Linked DNA regions of Homo sapiens: region 2 is linked to region 1. The links come from fine-mapping of genetic effects on gene expression. Tissue or cell type: whole blood. Region 1 holds a variant in brackets; the other region holds the start of a gene. All regions are shown on one strand. Distances are between the middles of the regions.

Region 1 (8,347 bases):
ATTGACCTCTGTCTAGGTTCCTGGATGCTGTTCCAGGTGTTGAAGAAGGGTCAACCTAGGATCAGTATGGTGGCTTATGCTGAACTGGGAAGATGCATGAGGAAGAAGCAGAGAGAACCAAGCAGTCACTTCGCAAGGCCAATTCTGGAAGAGCACATTTGGGGAAAATGGGCTTAAGTAGAGCCAGGAAAGTTCTAGTGGAAAGACAGGATTGGTCCAAATGAATTGAGTCTCCTAACTGGTGAGGCCAATTCTGGATGAGCAGATTTGTGAGAAATGGGCAAGGCCTTCCCTCTTCCAGGATATGTGGGTTTCCTTCATCACAGTGGCCACCACATGAATTTCTAGGATGAAGGGGTCAAAATCTCCTGGCAACCTTGAGCTTAAATTGTGTTTGTGTAACACCTTCCCTAAGGTTCCAATAAAATTACTAGGGGGTTTTACAGAGTGAAGTAGAAGGGACTGACAAAGACCCTCCTTGACCAAACCCTAGACACAGTCTCCTCACCCCTTTCCCACCTATGCTTGGACCTTGGACATTGCCTCAAGAGCCCAGTTTTAGCCAGCATCCCCTATCTTCAATATCTGATTCGCCCTCGATATCTGACCACATTCCTTATTCTCCAATTGATATCTGATCACCCTGGTCTGCCTATAGCAAGAATACTGTTAGGTCACTTTAGAAAAAATTAACGTATCCTTTTAGTAATTTTCCATTCACTAACCCCTGTCCTGCCCCACGTTCCATCCCTACCTCTCAGTCTTTGGCTGTAAATCCCTTATTTTCCTTGTATTAGGAGCTGATCCCAATCTCAATCCTCTACTGCAAAGTACACCTATGGCAATAATGCTGAATGAAGTCTGCTTTACCATCCTAACAACTGTGTTACATTTTTTCTTTAACAGAAATAAAGTATGTTTGTGCTTTTGAAGAGGTAGGAGACTTTCTGTCACCTAAGTCCCATATCCAGTCCTGAAGCCTCTTCTTGCCTCAGAGTTGTTAGGGCTGGTTTCCTGAGGAAATAAAAACATTTCACTCCAAAATCTATTTGTTTGACATACTTCATGATAGTGGTTCAGAGGGCCTGCAAACAGAAGTAGTCCTAAAAACTGTGTTTTATGAGGGAGACCTTCATCTGTAGAGAAAACCTGTATTGATGTAGCCAGACTTAAGCCCCCATTCTTTCTGGTAACCTTAAATTGGTATATAAACATTCATACCCCATTGTTAGGGTAATCACTTGTGACTTTCCCCCAATGCATGCTAGTAAATTTCTATGCCATCTCCCCTAGTAATTGGCCTTTTGTCAGTTGATTTTTCATCAAACCTTCAGAGGAGGAAGGGAAATATTCCCTTAGCTTCTACAGTTTTGGTGCTGTCAGCAGGATCCCAAAGTCTCTTTGCTGTTCTGGAAACTGCAGTGAAGGGAACCTAGGACCTGACTAGATGGCAGAAAGGTAAGATTTTCTTACCAACCAGGCTCTCGGTCTCTCTCTGTGGAATCCAGTCAAGTGGATGGCAAAAATCACTGTATGTCTCTTTTTCCTCTGCAAAATTTTGATTAATAGGAGAAAAAAATTTGTGTGGCTAGTAGTGGGTCTAACAACTCTGATGTACTGTTTGGTATGAATATTCGTATTGTTTGGTCTTTCTCCTCCCAGAAACAGTTTTCTTCTTTGTCTTTTTGTGTTGTTCTGTGATAAAGAAGGACACCATAGGGTGGAACATGGGCCTAAACCTCCTATAAGCCCGTTTTTCAAGCCAACCCTGAAAACTGGTCAGTTTTGATTGTGATCAGAGCAGCGTATAAACTTTGCTGTGGGTTTCCAAAATAAAAACTGGATGAGGTTCCCCTCTTGTCTTGTTTTATGTCCTTGAGCTTGACCTGTGACCAAGTGGGAGCACTCTCTGTCTCCATCATTTGGGTGGCATGATTTTTGGATCATGTCTGGTGGCCAGTCTGAAAATGGCTGGGAACCAGAGTCATATAAGATTTGAAGCAATACACTTTTTGTTCCAAATGTGTCAAGCTCTTGAGGTAGTTTGTCTTTAAAAGTCCCATCTCTACAGGGTTTTTGTTGCCTCAACCCTTGTTGCCTGGTTAGTGCTAGAAAAGTCCTATCCTAAAAGAGCCTACTTGGTGTCACAAATTAAGAGGTCTGTGACTGGTGATCCCCACAAATTTCTAAGTCACCAGAGGCACTGTATGCACAAACAGCATCCTTAACCATGTGTGGCAATAAGAATCTTTCTATCTTGGCCTATTCCTGGGAGTAAATTTTTGAGGGAGAGACTCTTTAGGATTGCCACTTCTATGCCTCTTCAAGAAACATCTTTTTCTTAAATGATAAAAACTTACATTAAACCTAGAAATTTATATCTTGGGTTTTCCAATGAAGAGGCTGTTGCATTGAATTAAGTATACCAGTGGAAATTCTAATTTCCAATGTCCAGACGATGGATCCTTTAAATTAGAAAGACTCCTAAACTCAAAAAACATTTTTAAAGATCTCTCATTCTCAACAATTGCCTTATTTGTATTTATAGGAAGATTACATTAAAAGAAAGACATACAATGGTGTCATGGCTAGCCTTAGAAATTCTCTTGACAAAATTAAAGAGCAAACCCCTAACTGAAAACAAAGTTAAAACCCTTTATGAGCTCAAACTCCTTACTTTGGATCCCATTCAAGATTCACTAAGTAGTCTGCTCCACCTTGTAGTTTAGATAAAATTCTCTGCTTTCACCAGAGTGGCCTGGGTTTGACTCCTGGGCAGGGAATCAGCCCCTTTTGGTTTGATAATCATGTGACTTTTTACTTTTGGGGGTACTCATTTGTTTTTCATCTTTTTCCTTTCCATGGACAGCTTTTGATTGTCTTCCATCTGTAAGGGCACATGGGGCTTTTTGGGCCTTTGTGATGGCCAGATGAGAAGCTGAGACCCTAGAGAGAATATAATCAGACAGATACAAATTATACCCCATTTGTGATTAGCAAAACTCTTACTTCTTTGAGCTATCTTTGAAGTTGGTTCTGGATCTTGTGAGTACTTCTTTGTGCCTCTTTGGAGACACCTCATGCATTCTTGGTTATGTAGGGTGTCTTTGGTTAAAAAGTTCAAAAGCCAGCAATGTTAGCTGTTTGTCTCAGCTAAAATCTGATAATAAGAAATTTTGAAAGATTTTTTTAATTAAAAAAGAGCTACATGGTCAGAAGTCAGCTTAATTAAAAGCTGATATTCAAGCCATATATATATATGAGAGACCCATACCAGTGGCCTAGACCAGTGGCCGTTGTGAGGACTGGGGACATGACCTGTGCCTCACTTTCCCTAGTCCAGCTGTGCCTCCTGGCCATGCTGAGAGAAATCAGGTCCTACAGAGACTGTCTTGAGAGCTCTTTCCTTTGTATTGGTCTCTACATCTGGTATATAACAGTTAAAATTACTTATTTCCTTGATTTTTCACTAAAAATCAGAGTTATTAAGCATTAATATTATAATTATTATGTATAATTAAAACTTCTAGGTTAGGCCAGGCATGGTGGCTCATGCCTGTAGTCCCAGCACTGTGGGAGGCTAAAGCTGGTAGATTGCTTTAGCCCAGGAGTTCAAGATGAGTCTGGGCAATATGGTGAAACCTTGTCTCTATGAAAAAAAAAAAATTTGCCAGGCATGGTGGCACATGCCTGTAGTCCCAGCTACTCAGGAGGCTGAAGTGAGAGGACTGCTTGAGCCCAGGAGGTCTAGGCTGCAGTGAACTATGATCATGCCACTGTACTCCAGCCTGGGCAACAGAGTAAGAGAGTAAGATCCTCTATTTCACAAAAAAAAAAAAAGGAAAAGAAAAGCCTTCTAGATACAAAAAATGCTTCTATATACAAAATATATACAACATACACAAAAACACTTCTATATGCAACATATACAAAAAAGATGTTTTAAATAAAGAAGATTGGCAAGGGCGCAGGGGCTCATGCCTGTAATCCCAGCAGTTTGGGAGGAGGAGGTGGGTGGATCACCTGAGGTCAGGAGTTCATGACCAGCCTGGCCAACATGGCGAAACCCTGTCTCTACTAAAAATACAAAAATTAGCTGGGTGTGGTGGCACGCTTCTGTAATCCCAGCTACTCAGGGGGCTGAGGCAGGAGAATCGCTTGATCCCGAGGGGCAGAGGTTGCAGTGAGCCGAGAACGTGTCATTGCACTCCAGCCTGGGTGACAGAGCAAGATTTAGTCTCAAAAAAAAAAAAA[AG/G]GTTATTAAAAAGACATAAAAATATAGTTGTTGGTAAGAAAAATGTTGTTCAGTTTTGAGGGTTTCGAGATGGGGTCTCATTCTGTTGCCTGGGCTGGACTGCAGTGGTGTTATCAGCTCACTATATAACCTCAAACTTCTGTGCTCAAGGGTTCCTCCTGCCTCAGCTTCCCAAGTAGCTGGGACTGTAGGTGCACACAACCATAATTGGGTAATTAAATATTTTTTTTTGTGGAGACGGGATCTCAGTTTATTACCCAAGCTGGTCTTGAACTCCTGGACTCAAGGGATCCTCCTGCCTCGGCCTCCCAAAGTGCTGGGATTACAGGTGTGAGCTGCCACACCTAGCTTAGTTTAGATGTTTGTTTTAAAGTTTTAAATTTTTAATAGTTAATAACAGATAAAACTAAATTTAAAAAATTATAAAAGGTTATAAAAGGTTTATACAAATCTTATCTTCTGTGGTCAAAACTAATTGAGGTTAGATAGACCTGTTCATAATTTTACTAAAATTAGCTTTAGCATTAATAATATACGGATATAGAGATACAAATTTTTTAACAAAATTTCCATATAAGAGATAACAAGCTCTCTAACAAGCCCTCTCCCCCTCCCCCTCCCCCTCCCCCTCCCTCTCGTCTCCCTCTCCGTCTCCCTCTCCCCGGTCTCCTTCCACGGTCTCCCTCTGATGCCGAGCCGAAGCTGGACTGTACTGCTGCGATCTCGGCTCACTGCAACCTCCCTGCCTGATTCTCCTGCCTCAGCCTGCTGAGTGCCTGCGATTGCAGGCGCGCGTCGCCACGCCTGACTGGTTTTCGTTTTTTTTTTGGTGGAGACGGGGTTTTGCTGTGTTGGCCGGGCTGGTCTCCAGCTCCTAACCGCGAGTGATCCGCCAGCCTCGGCCTCCCGAGGTGCCGGGATTGCAGACGGAGTCTCGTTCACTCAGTGCTCAATGGTGCCAAGGCTGGAGTGCAGTGGCGTGATCTCGGCTCGCTACAACCACCTCCCAGCCGCCTGCCTTGGCCTCCCAAAGAGCCGAGATTGCAGCCTCTGCCCGGCCGCCACCCCGTCTGGGAAGTGAGGAGCGTCTCTGCCTGGCCGCCCATCGTCTGGGATATGAGGAGCCCCTCTGCCTGGCTGCCCAGTCTGGAAAGTGAGGAGCGTCTCTGCCCGGCCGCCATCCCATCTAGGAAGCGAGGAGCGCCACTTCCCCGCCGCCATCCCATCTAGGAAGTGAGGAGCGTCTCTGCCCGGCCGCCCATCGTCTGAGAGGTGGGGAGCACCTCTGCCCCGCCGCCCTGTCTGGGATGTGAGGAGCGCCTCTGCCCGGCCGCCCCGTCTGAGAAGTGAGGAAACCCTCTGCCTGGCAACCGCCCCGTCTGAGAAGTGAGGAGCCCCTCCGTCCAGCAGCCACCCCGTCTGGGAAGTGAGGAGCGTCTCCGCCCAGCAGCCACCCCGTCCAGGAGGGAGGTGGGGGGGGTCAGCCCCCGCCCGGCCAGCCGCCCCGTCCGGGAGGTGAGGGGCTCCTCTGCCCGGCCGCCCCTACTGGGAAGTGAGGAGCCCCTCTGCCTGGCCAGTCGCCCCGTCCAGGAGGGAGGTGGGGGGGTCAGCCCCCCGCCCGGCCAGCCGCCCAGTCCGGGAGGGGGGAGGGGGGGTCAGCCCCCTGCCCGGCCAGCCGCCCCGTCCGGGAGGGAGGTGGGGGGATCAGCCCCCCGCCTGGCCAGCCGCCCCGTCCGGGAGGTGAGGGGCGCCTCTGCCCGGCCACCCCTACTGGGAAGTGAGGAGCCCCTCTGCCCGGCCAGCCGCCCCGTCCGGGAGGGAGGTGGGGGGGTCAGCCCCCCGCCCGGCCGGCCGCCCCGTCCGGGAGGTGAGGGGCGCCTCTGCCCGGCCGCCCCTACTGGGAAGTGAGGACCCCTCTGCCCGGCCAGCCGCCCCGTCCGGGAGGGAGGTGGGGGGATCAGCCCCCCGCCCGGCCAGCCGCCCAGTCCGGGAGGGAGGTGGGGGGTCAGCCCCTCGCCCGGCCAGCCGCCCCGTCCGGGAGGGAGGTGGGGGGATCAGCCCCCCGCCTGGCCAGCCGCCCCGTCCGGGAGGTGAGGGGCGCCTCTGCCCGGCCGCCCCTACTGGGAGGTGAGGAGCCCCTCTGCCCAGCCAGCCGCCCCGTCCGGGAGGGAGGTGGGGGGGTCAGCCCCCGCCCAGCCAGCCGCCCCGTCCGGGAGGGGGGAGGGGGAGTCAGCCCCCTGCCCGGCCAGCCGCCCCGTCCGGGAGGGAGGTGGGGGGGTCAGCCCCCCGCCCGGCCAGCCGCCCCGTCCGGGAGGGAGGTGGGGGGATCAGCCCCCCGCCTGGCCAGCCGCCCCGTCCGGGAGGTGAGGGGCGCCTCTGCCCGGCCGCCCCTACTGGGAAGTGAGGAGCCCCTCTGCCTGGCCAGCCGCCCCATCCGGGAGGGAGGCGGCGGGGGGGGTCGGCCAGCCGCCCCGTCCGGGAGGGAGGTGGAGGGGTCAGCCCCCCGCCCGGCCAGCCGCCCTATCCAGGAGGTGAGGGGCGCCTCTGCCCGGCCGCCCCTACTGGGAAGTGAGGAGCCCCTCTGCCTGGCCAGCCGCCCCGTCCGGGAGGGTGGTGGGGGGGTCAGCCCCCCGCCCGGCCAGCCGCCCCATCCGGGAGGTGAGGGGCGCTTCTGCCCGGCCGCCCCTACTGGGAAGTGAGGAGCCCCTCTGCCCGGCCACGACCCCGTCTGGGAGGTGTGCCCAGCGGCTCACTGGGGATGGGCCATGATGACAATGGCGGTTTTGTGGAATAGAAAGGCGGGAAGGGTGGGGAAAAAATTGAGAAATCGGATGGTTGCCGGGTCTGTGTGGATAGAAGTAGACATGGGAGACTTTTCATTTTGTTCTGTACTAAGAAAAATTCTTCTGCCTTGGGATCCTGTTGATCTGTGACCTTATCCCCAACCCTGTGCTCTCTGAAACATGTGCTGTGTCCACTCAGGGTTAAATGGATTAAGGGCGGTGCAAGATGTGCTTTGTTAAACAGATGCTTGAAGGCAGCATGCTCGTTAAGAGTCATCACCACTCCCTAATCTTAAGTACCCAGGGACACAAACACTGCGGAAGGCAGCAGGGTCCTCTGCCTAGGAAAACCAGAGACCTTTGTTCACTTGTTTATCTGCTGACCTTCCCTCCACTATTGTCCTATGACCCTGCCAAATCCCCTTCTGCGAGAAACACCCAAGAATGATCAATTAAAAAAAAAAAAAAACAAAACAAATATTTACGTATGATAATGAGAAGAACACTGTCCTAGATGGCTGAAATGCTAATAGTCTTTAATTCACTATTTTCTTATTCTGACTGTTGCAAAGATTTGTAGTTTTATTGATGATTCTCACTCATGTTCTAAAATAGGAGTTGGCAAACTATTGGCTGCCTGTGTTTATAAATAAAGTTTTCCTAGAACACAACAAAAAAAAAAAAAAAAAAAGAGATAACAAATGCAAGATTTTTTGTTCACCTTTTAAATACATTGCAAAAGAAAAAAGAGAGTTTGCCTCATGCTGTCTTTGTCTTTTTGACTGTTTAGAGAACTGAGTCTCCTCTCTATCAAAGAGTAAGGGTTTTTGCTTTTTGAAATCTTTGAATTATCACTTTGGCTAAATGAGTAACTTATTTGTGTAAGATAAGGATTACTTATGTGTAATTCTATTTTGATCCAGGGTTTGAAACCTTTCTTATTTTCCTATCAAGTGTTTTAAGCCTTTAATAGTTGACAAACTTCTCAAAATCAAATTTTATATTCTAAAATTAAGTCTTTTTGACCTGAAACTAACTTTTAATTTTGGTATATAAAAATCATATGGAAAACACTGTCAAATAGAAGTGGCATTTAACTTTGAGTTACATTTGCAGAAATGTGTTATTAATATGTGCTCCAAAATTGTATGAGATTCCTAAAATTATGATATGTCTTGGCCTATGTTATGATTCATATGATTATTGTGTTAAATTGTTATATGCCACAGAAATAAGCAAATTTTCTTGTCAATTGTGTCTTTTTTTTTTTTTTTGGAGGCGGAGTCTCACTATGTCACCCAGGCTGGAG
Region 2 (8,000 bases), 49 kb after region 1:
CCAGGTTGATCCAGAAAAGGATGGAATTGGTTGCATGGTGTTTTCAGGATCCGATTGGGAGATGATGCGTTCGCGTGGGAACGCTCCTGGTAGGGTCTGTAAGCCTCTTAGGGGGATTACATCTGGATGTATAATTTTTTTTGGGAAATGTGAAAGCTTATGGGAAAAATACGTTTTACTTCCAAGCAGTGGCAGTTCCTTATTTCCTATGAGGAAGGAGTTTATAGCCCCACTCTTGACTGAAAAGTGTGAGAGACAATTCAAGCGCTTGAAAATTCACCTGTTTTGCATTTCCGGAAAGACAGAGAAAGCGTCAGTGATCCATTTCACAGATCAAGGGTATAGGAAAGTGGATGGCACTTTGAGATGTTCATTAGGTTTGGAGAGGGAGCAGACATCTGCCAGCAATCCCACCTCTTGTGCTGGAGTCTTGCAGTTCATTTTTCTCTCCTGCCCTCTTCCAAATCCTATGTCCAATATCAAGGATATCTGACAGTTAACCATCAGAATCAACGAGCGTTCCCACAGAGTTCCGTCCTGCAGGAGAGGTACCGGGACAGGGGCGGGAGACCTGAAGCTGCGATCAGAAAACGCTGTGCCTTTTACGCTCCTAAGGAACCTTAGACCGAGAGTTTCAAGTTTCAAAGGCAAGCAGTTGTTGGCCCCTCCTGTAGGATCCTGTGGGCTCTGGACCGGGAAGAGAGCCTGGCAGCGAGGGGTGACCTGGAAAAGCCCAGTCACAGAGGGTGGATGGCTGTTTCCTGCGTAGGAAGCTGTTGGCGACCAGAATGGTTTATACTTTGTTCCTGGGACCAACAGGATCTGCTTGGTTCTCGGCGCATAAGCCCACTACTCTCCCCCTGCGTAATGCACTGGGTGGAATGCAAGAACAATACAGACTTCCTGCGGGCCTCGGTGGCCCACGCCTGTGATCCCAGCACTTTGGGAGGCCCAGGCGGGCGAATCGCTTGAGCTCAGGAGTTCGAGACCAGCCTGGGCAACATAGCGAGACCGCCGTCACTAATATATATATATTTATATATATATATTTCATATATAATATATATTTTATATATAATATATATTTTATATATAATATATATTTTATATATAATATATATTTTATATTTTATATACTATATAAAATATATTATATATAATATATTATATATAATATATTATATATCTTATATATTATATATTATATATAATATATTTTATATATTATATACTATATTTTATATATTTTATATATTATATATAATATATTATATATTATATATTATATATAATATATTATATATATTATATATAATATATAATATATAATATATTATATATATTATATATAATATATTTTATATATAATATATATATTATATATTATATATATATTATATAATATATATATTATATAATATATATATTATATATAATATATAAATAAATATATATTTATATATTTTATATAATATATAAAAATATATATTTATATTTATATATTTATTTATATTATATATAAATATAAAATATATATTTTAATATATATATTTATATATATAAATATATATAAATTAGACGGGGGTGGTAGCACTCACCTGTGGTCTCGGCTACTCTAGAGGCTGAAGCGGGAGGATCGCTGGATCCCAGGAAGTCGAGGCTGCACTGAGCCAAGATGACACCACTGCACCAGCCTAGGCGACAGAGGAAAAAAGAAAAGAAAAAGACATCAGACTTCCCTAAGCCCGTGGGGGACAGAGTGGGTAGAGCCAGTAGCACTTTGGTGGCACCGAGCGCGCAGTTGGTCGGTCGCTGCACCGTTCCTTTCCCAGCGCCGGCTGTTTCTCACTGGCAACGCCACGCCTTTGTCAGCGTTATCGGACGCTCTCTGGCGGCAACCTTCTCACGGCCAAAAATTATCTTTTGCAACTGCACAGACATTTGCTACGGGCAGCTGATCGCTGGGTCCCAGCGCCGCTGGTTTCACAATTTCGCGGGTGCCCCCCACCATCCCCAGCCCGCAGCATAATCGGTGAAGGGAGCCTGCGGTTTCTCCGCCGCGCCTTCGCCCGTTGCGTCCTGCGAAGCCAGTGGAATCGGTGGTCACAAGGTTGGTTTCACCAAGTCGGGCGTTTCTTGGCACTGGCACCGCTCTGCGCTTTTGCTGGCCCAGGCCGGTCTCAGCACCGTTAGGTGCTCTCTAAAGGCGACTGTCTGTCGTGGTTAGGAAAGCTGCTATGGGACGACAGTTTTTTAGAAGTTTCTAGTCTAGCCCAGCTGGCGGTTTCTGGATCGCAGAACCACTGATTGCGCGGAGCTGGATGTACTTCTGTGGCCGCGCATGTTTCTCTGTGGTATCCCTACGGCTGTCGTCGAAATCGCGGTGTTTCTCTGGCCCCACCGCCACGTGGGCAACTTCTTCAGTGGCTGCGGGGTTCTCTCCACTGAGTTGCTGGTTTTGATCCACGCTTTCTCCCAGAGAGCAGACGAGACACTTTTCTGTTTGTGTCAACTGCTAGTCGTGCTGTGCACAGTTTCCTCGTCTCGGTGCGGGGCTTTCTCCATCCGAGGCCCTCTAGTGCCGGCTTCGCGGTCGCAGCACCCGGCGTTTCCGTTGGCTCTTTCGCCAGCGGCGCGAAGCCGGCGGTTTTGCTGTCACAGCACTTGCTGCACGGAGTTTCTCGGTAGCCGAACTTCTCTTTTTTTCTCAGAGTCGACGGTTTCTTGGTGACGGCACCGCTGGTTGCGCCAAAACAAATGTTGTCCTTGACAACCCCGCCGGCTGCATTCCCTTTCAGGCTCCTGGCACCGCCATTTCGGCGAGCCGTGGTCTCTTGTTCACAGCTCTGTGCCTCCATTTCTCGGTGGCGGCAGCCCTCAGGCCGCGGATCTGAGAGATTTAAAGTCGCAGCTGCCCCCGTTGCGCCGAGTCTGGCGTTGCCGGATGGGTGCTGCAGGGCTGGGCGGGGGGAGCCCGACGCTCCTTGGAGCCGGTGACAGGGGAGCTGCAGGGGCACAGTCTCTTCCCAGCGCCGCCGCACGGGTTCCGGCTCGGCCTCCAGAACGCAGTCCTGTGGCGGCGCCGCCGGCGTCTCTGTCGCAGGACCCCACGGTTTCGCGCGTCGTTGGCTTCTTAGTCCTAGCAAGTTTCGATTTCGCGGTGCCTGGGATTTCCACCCTCTGTCCAAGTAGGGGAATAGCCAAAATGTATTTTCTCAGCCCAAGCAAGTCCTGACTTAAGACAAACACCGGTCTAGCCCTGGCTGCGATATCTAGGCCGTAGGAACTCACCCGTTTCCCCATGCGAAGGCGAAGTTACCCTGTGACTCGTTGGTCAGCAGCTCCGGGTTTCCAGTGGCCTCGGATTTCTAATCATAACAACCATGGGGTCAGCCTAGCCTCAAGTTTCTTAGTCCTAGCAAGTTCCGGTTTCCTACTGGTAAGACTTGCTTTAGCTGCGCAGGAAATGTTTAACTCCTGTGGAAATCTGGGTACCAGCGAATGCTTTTTTTTTTTTTTTAAAGGTTTAGCGATGACCAGTTTAGCAGTGTTGGGAGCTCTTATACCAAGTTTGGTTTCGCAATATCGAGTCCTGTCTTAGCTATGCTTGTGTGTTTTTAAAACTCCCGTGGAAGTCAGGAAATGCCGGCGATCGCGATGTCTCAGTTTTACCAAGCTCCCTTTGACAATAGCAAGTCCTGCCCATCGAGACTTTTTCCTCTTGTAGACCAAATCGGGATGTACCAGCTACTACGATTTTTTAGACGTAGCTAAACACGTTTAACCGTGGATATTTTTGTTTTTTTTCTCGTAGGAAATTATGACAGGAGCAACCTGCAGGGGTTTAGATCTGACAGAAATATTCTAATGGTAGGCATTGCATCGCTTAGCCATATTTGTAATTTCTTCTTTGTAGGGTTGGTTCTCTGTAACTTTTGCTTACCTTAAAATTATTTTTGTGTCTTGCTCTGAGGACAATGTTACCGATGTGTTTTTCATTTTTACTTGCATTTCAGACTTTCATTATTTTAAATTATGTATTTTTTTTTTCTTCTAATTTTGAGCGTCTCAGATTCGTGCTTCTTGACTTTCATTCTCTCAGGAGCCGGGGAGCCGAGCTCGGTCTTAGCCTCGCTGGTATCAGGTTCCGGGTTCTGTCTGGAGGCTCCGCTTCCTATGCAGAGCTGGCGGTTTTGTATCAGCACGTTTGCCAGTGGCGCCCACTGGGCGTTTTCTCAGTTGCTGCACCCAACGTGACATTTCCCGTTCGCGGGGTCCTTAGGTTCTCAGTGCTGTCACTTTTTCGCTCCTACAACCGCTAGTATCTCCTAGGAACTTCCTGAACCCCGTTTTGCCGTGCAGAACGGTGATTGCACCGAGCCGCTGTTCGCACTAGTAATTGTGTGGTACCATTAGCCGGCGCTTTTTCTGTCACAACCCATTAAAACGGGTTAAAACATATTAAACCTATCAAACACATTGAACGGATTAAAACACATTAAATGCCGCAACACATTTTTCTGGTACAACACATTGAAACAGAGTTGGTTCATTCCTCCAAACAGGTTGTTTAGGTGTGGAAGCACCGCTCTTAGTTCTAAGAGCATGCTGTTTCTCTTTAGCAGCACCCTTTACGGCGCCAAAACGGATATTTGTTTGGCAATACCAGCGCTATCCGCTAGGTGCCGGCGCTTGCTAAGTTCAACGCGCCAGTTTCTCGTTTGCAAGGTGGTTAGGGCAGAGCCCTAGCAGACAGTTTTCCGGTGGCAGCAACGCTCATTTCCCGGAAACGGGTGGTTCTTGGCCCTTGCGCGCTCTTGAATACCTGCGTTCTGTAGCGCTAGTTCTCTTCAAGATTTGCTTAGTGTCATTTCATTTCGGTTTCTTTTCTCGCCATGTTTTTCTGTCGGAATTACGGTTCGTTTTGGTTCTATGTACTCTCTAAAATGTTATCGTTTTTCATTTGTCTACTAATTTTCGTGCATTTGTTACTACTGAGTTTCTTAATATCTGACTGGCCTCCGCCCACGGGCTCTGCAGAGCATAAATACTCAGGCTGATGGTAGTGCAGAGACTCTCCCTCCTTGATCAGCGCAAACGTTGGTCTGAGGCTTGAGGGATGGAGCAACATTTTCTTGGCTGTGTGAAGCGGGCTTGGGATTCCGCAGAGGTGGCGCCAGAGCCCCAGCCTCCACCTATTGTGAGTTCAGAAGATCGTGGGCCGTGGCCTCTTCCTTTGTATCCAGTACTAGGAGAGTACTCACTGGACAGCTGTGATTTGGGACTGCTTTCCAGCCCTTGCTGGCGGCTGCCCGGAGTCTACTGGCAAAACGGACTCTCTCCTGGAGTCCAGAGCACCTTGGAACCAAGTACAGCGAAGCCCACTGAGTTCAGTTGGCCGGGGACACAGAAGCAGCAAGAGGCACCCGTAGAAGAGGTGGGGCAGGCAGAGGAACCCGACAGACTCAGGCTCCAGCAGCTTCCCTGGAGCAGTCCTCTCCATCCCTGGGACAGACAGCAGGACACCGAGGTCTGTGACAGCGGGTGCCTTTTGGAACGCCGCCATCCTCCTGCCCTCCAGCCGTGGCGCCACCTCCCGGGTTTCTCAGACTGCCTGGAGTGGATTCTTCGCGTTGGTTTTGCCGCGTTCTCTGTACTCTGGGCGTGCTGTTCACGGATCTGTGGAGCTAAGCAGCCTTAGATAGCAGCAGAAGGCTTTTTGGATTCTCCTCCTTGAAAAGATTCTCAGTTACCAAACGTCTCCACCTAGAAAATAAAAATACATTAAGATGTGCTTTCATTGCTGGTTGTCAGTTTTTAAATTCTCTTTTTCCCTTATGTTTCTTTCTTGTTTCGCGTCGCTTATTACTTTCAGTTTCCTTGTATTTTAAATATTTGTATTTATTTCATTAAATATTTCATTCGTATCTGTTTTCACTTTGAGAAATCTATTTTACGATTGTAGAATTCTTAGAGTTTTTGGCAAATTTAAAATTTGTTTTTTTCCATTGTATTTTAAAATCTTATTCCTACTATTTTTCTAATTATTGCTTTTTAAATGTATTGTTTGTTTACATTTAATTTTATATCATGTCTTTTACGTTATTATAACGTCTTTTTAATTTTAATTGTTAATTTTATTTTTAACAGCGGTCTTTCTTTTTTTCAGTATATCGATTCATTGTTTTACACTCAGGAATTTTATTCACGATCATAAGACTGAGAGGTTTATCAATCTTTGCTATTTCTCGTGGAAGGACCACGCAATTACTTATATTAATACAACTTCACAGATGACCAGTTCTTAAGATTACTTATTCTGGCGGGGCAGCGTGGCTCACGGCAGTAATCCCAGCACTTTCAGCAGCGGAGGCATGCGGATTGCTTGAGCTCAGGAGTTTGAGAAAAGCCTGGGCGACAGGGTGAGGCCTGTGTCTACAAAAAATGCAAAAGTTAGCCCTGTGAGATGGTGTGCACCTGTAGTCCCAGCTGCTCCGGAGGCTGGGGTGGGCGGGTTGCTTGAGCTCAGGAGGTCGAGGCTGCGGTGAGCCGGATAGCACCAACGCCCTCCAGCAGAGCGAGAGCCTGTCTCAAAATAAATAAATAATTGAAAAGACTACTTATTCATGGGTCTCAGGGCTAGCAGTGTTTCCAGCGTCTTTTTCTTTGGAACAGTTTAGCTTGGCTTATAAGAGAACTACCAGTTACTTAATGGTACCACAACTGGGTTTAGCAATTCGGGTAGGCACAGCAGGTCCGGCTTGGCCCTGCCTGCTTTGACTGCCTTTTCGGGAGTTTTAAACCTCCTACACTCGGAATGTAGCCCTGATTGTGGTTTCTCTGCATAGCAAGTTCGGACTTAAGCGGAATAAGTATCGGCTTATTTCGCCTGCGATAAAGATGCTTAATTCTGCGTTCGAAATATTCTGAGCGAGTCCTGGGTTAGGGATTTCTTAGAGTAACAAGTGCATGCTTCGATTTTAAGTGCCCCTGTGAATGTGATTTCTTAGCTCTTGCAAGTCCATATTTGGTCGCAACCAGTACTAGCATAGCCATGCCTGCGACTCCTTAGTCCCAGTAACTTTCGGTTTCATAATAACTTACCCTGCTTTACTTATGCCTGAGTTTTAAATATAGAAGTCCGGGCACGTAGGTGAAGAAGATATTTTAGGAGTAGCAAGTAGCGGTTTAGCAGTGTCTGCAGTCCCTTAGTTAGAAGTCCTGGTGAGACCGAGCAGATACTGATATAGGCCTGACAGCGATATTACCTCTGTGAAACCACATTGTTTAGAAGTGTTTGCATTTTCTTCTTTGTAGAGTCCATTTTTCCATGTTTTGCTTAGTTTTGAATTTTCATTTGATGAATCTTCCCAAATGTATTGTTTTTATTGTGTGTGCGTGTGTTTTTCAGCTAACTTGCCCTTTAAAAAAAAATTGTTCCTAATTTTTGTTTTGCTGACCCTCAGCTTTATGCTGTCTGGTTTGCGCTGGCCTGTAATTCCCGGAACTAAATATTCTATTCTTTTGGCCTAACTGGCCTTTCGTCGATGGCATTACTGCTAGTTTTGCCGCTCTAGGTGCTCCTCGGTGTTAGCACTGCCGGTTGCTTCTGTGAGGCTTGCTAGAGCCCAGGACGCTGAGGTGCTGGGTGACCCCGTTTCGGTGCAACCACTCCGAAGGTTCTCGGTTTATCCAGCTGTGTTTTGGAACAAATGCCAATTCTTCCTGGGAGCAAGTGTCTTTCAGTCGCGTTCCTGGCTGTTTTCTTCAAAAGCAGGCGTTTCTCCTGGTAGCACCGCTTGTTGGCGACGTCGGATTCTTTTCCGTGGCAGTACTGGTCGTTTCATGGAGTGGCCGGTTTCTCACTCGCACTGTGCCGGCTGGCAGTTATTCCGTGGAGGCGCAGCTCTCAGCCGCTTCCCTTGGTTCTCGGTGTCGGCTGTCCCTGTACCTGCGTTTGTGGCGGTATTTCTGTCACAATCGAGTCTGTGTTTTTTCGA

The links. PIP is the estimated chance that this variant, and not a neighbour inherited with it, causes the effect.
Region 2: ANXA2R starts here. The variant in region 1 is fine-mapped to the expression of ANXA2R in whole blood (INTERVAL, PIP 0.95).

The regions. Positions count from the first base shown.
Region 1 is chr5:43,085,690-43,094,036 of GRCh38, reverse strand. It overlaps LOC100506639 (a long non-coding RNA gene), which reads right to left. Exons shown (of 3, transcript NR_102752.1): 3 at 479-1,014. LOC124900972 (a long non-coding RNA gene) reads left to right here. Exons shown (of 2, transcript XR_007058762.1): 2 at 1-1,852. Among named protein-coding and RNA genes, the nearest start is that of ANXA2R-OT1, 22 kb to the right of the region's middle. The variant AG/G (reference allele first, on the strand shown) is at 4,255.
Region 2 is chr5:43,037,166-43,045,165 of GRCh38, reverse strand. It overlaps ANXA2R (annexin A2 receptor), which reads left to right and starts at 4,847. Exons shown (of 1, transcript NM_001014279.3): 1 at 4,847-5,795. The coding sequence starts at 5,120. The coding sequence ends at 5,701. The region is part of intron 2 of ANXA2R-OT1 (ANXA2R overlapping transcript 1); the gene reads left to right. ANXA2R-AS1 (ANXA2R antisense RNA 1) reads right to left here and starts at 3,032. Exons shown (of 2, transcript NR_015447.1): 1 at 1,599-3,032; 2 at 1-723. RefSeq lists enhancers at 350-849, 1,569-1,618, 1,426-1,961, 1,989-2,188, 2,269-2,478 and 7 more and a silencer at 4,584-4,853.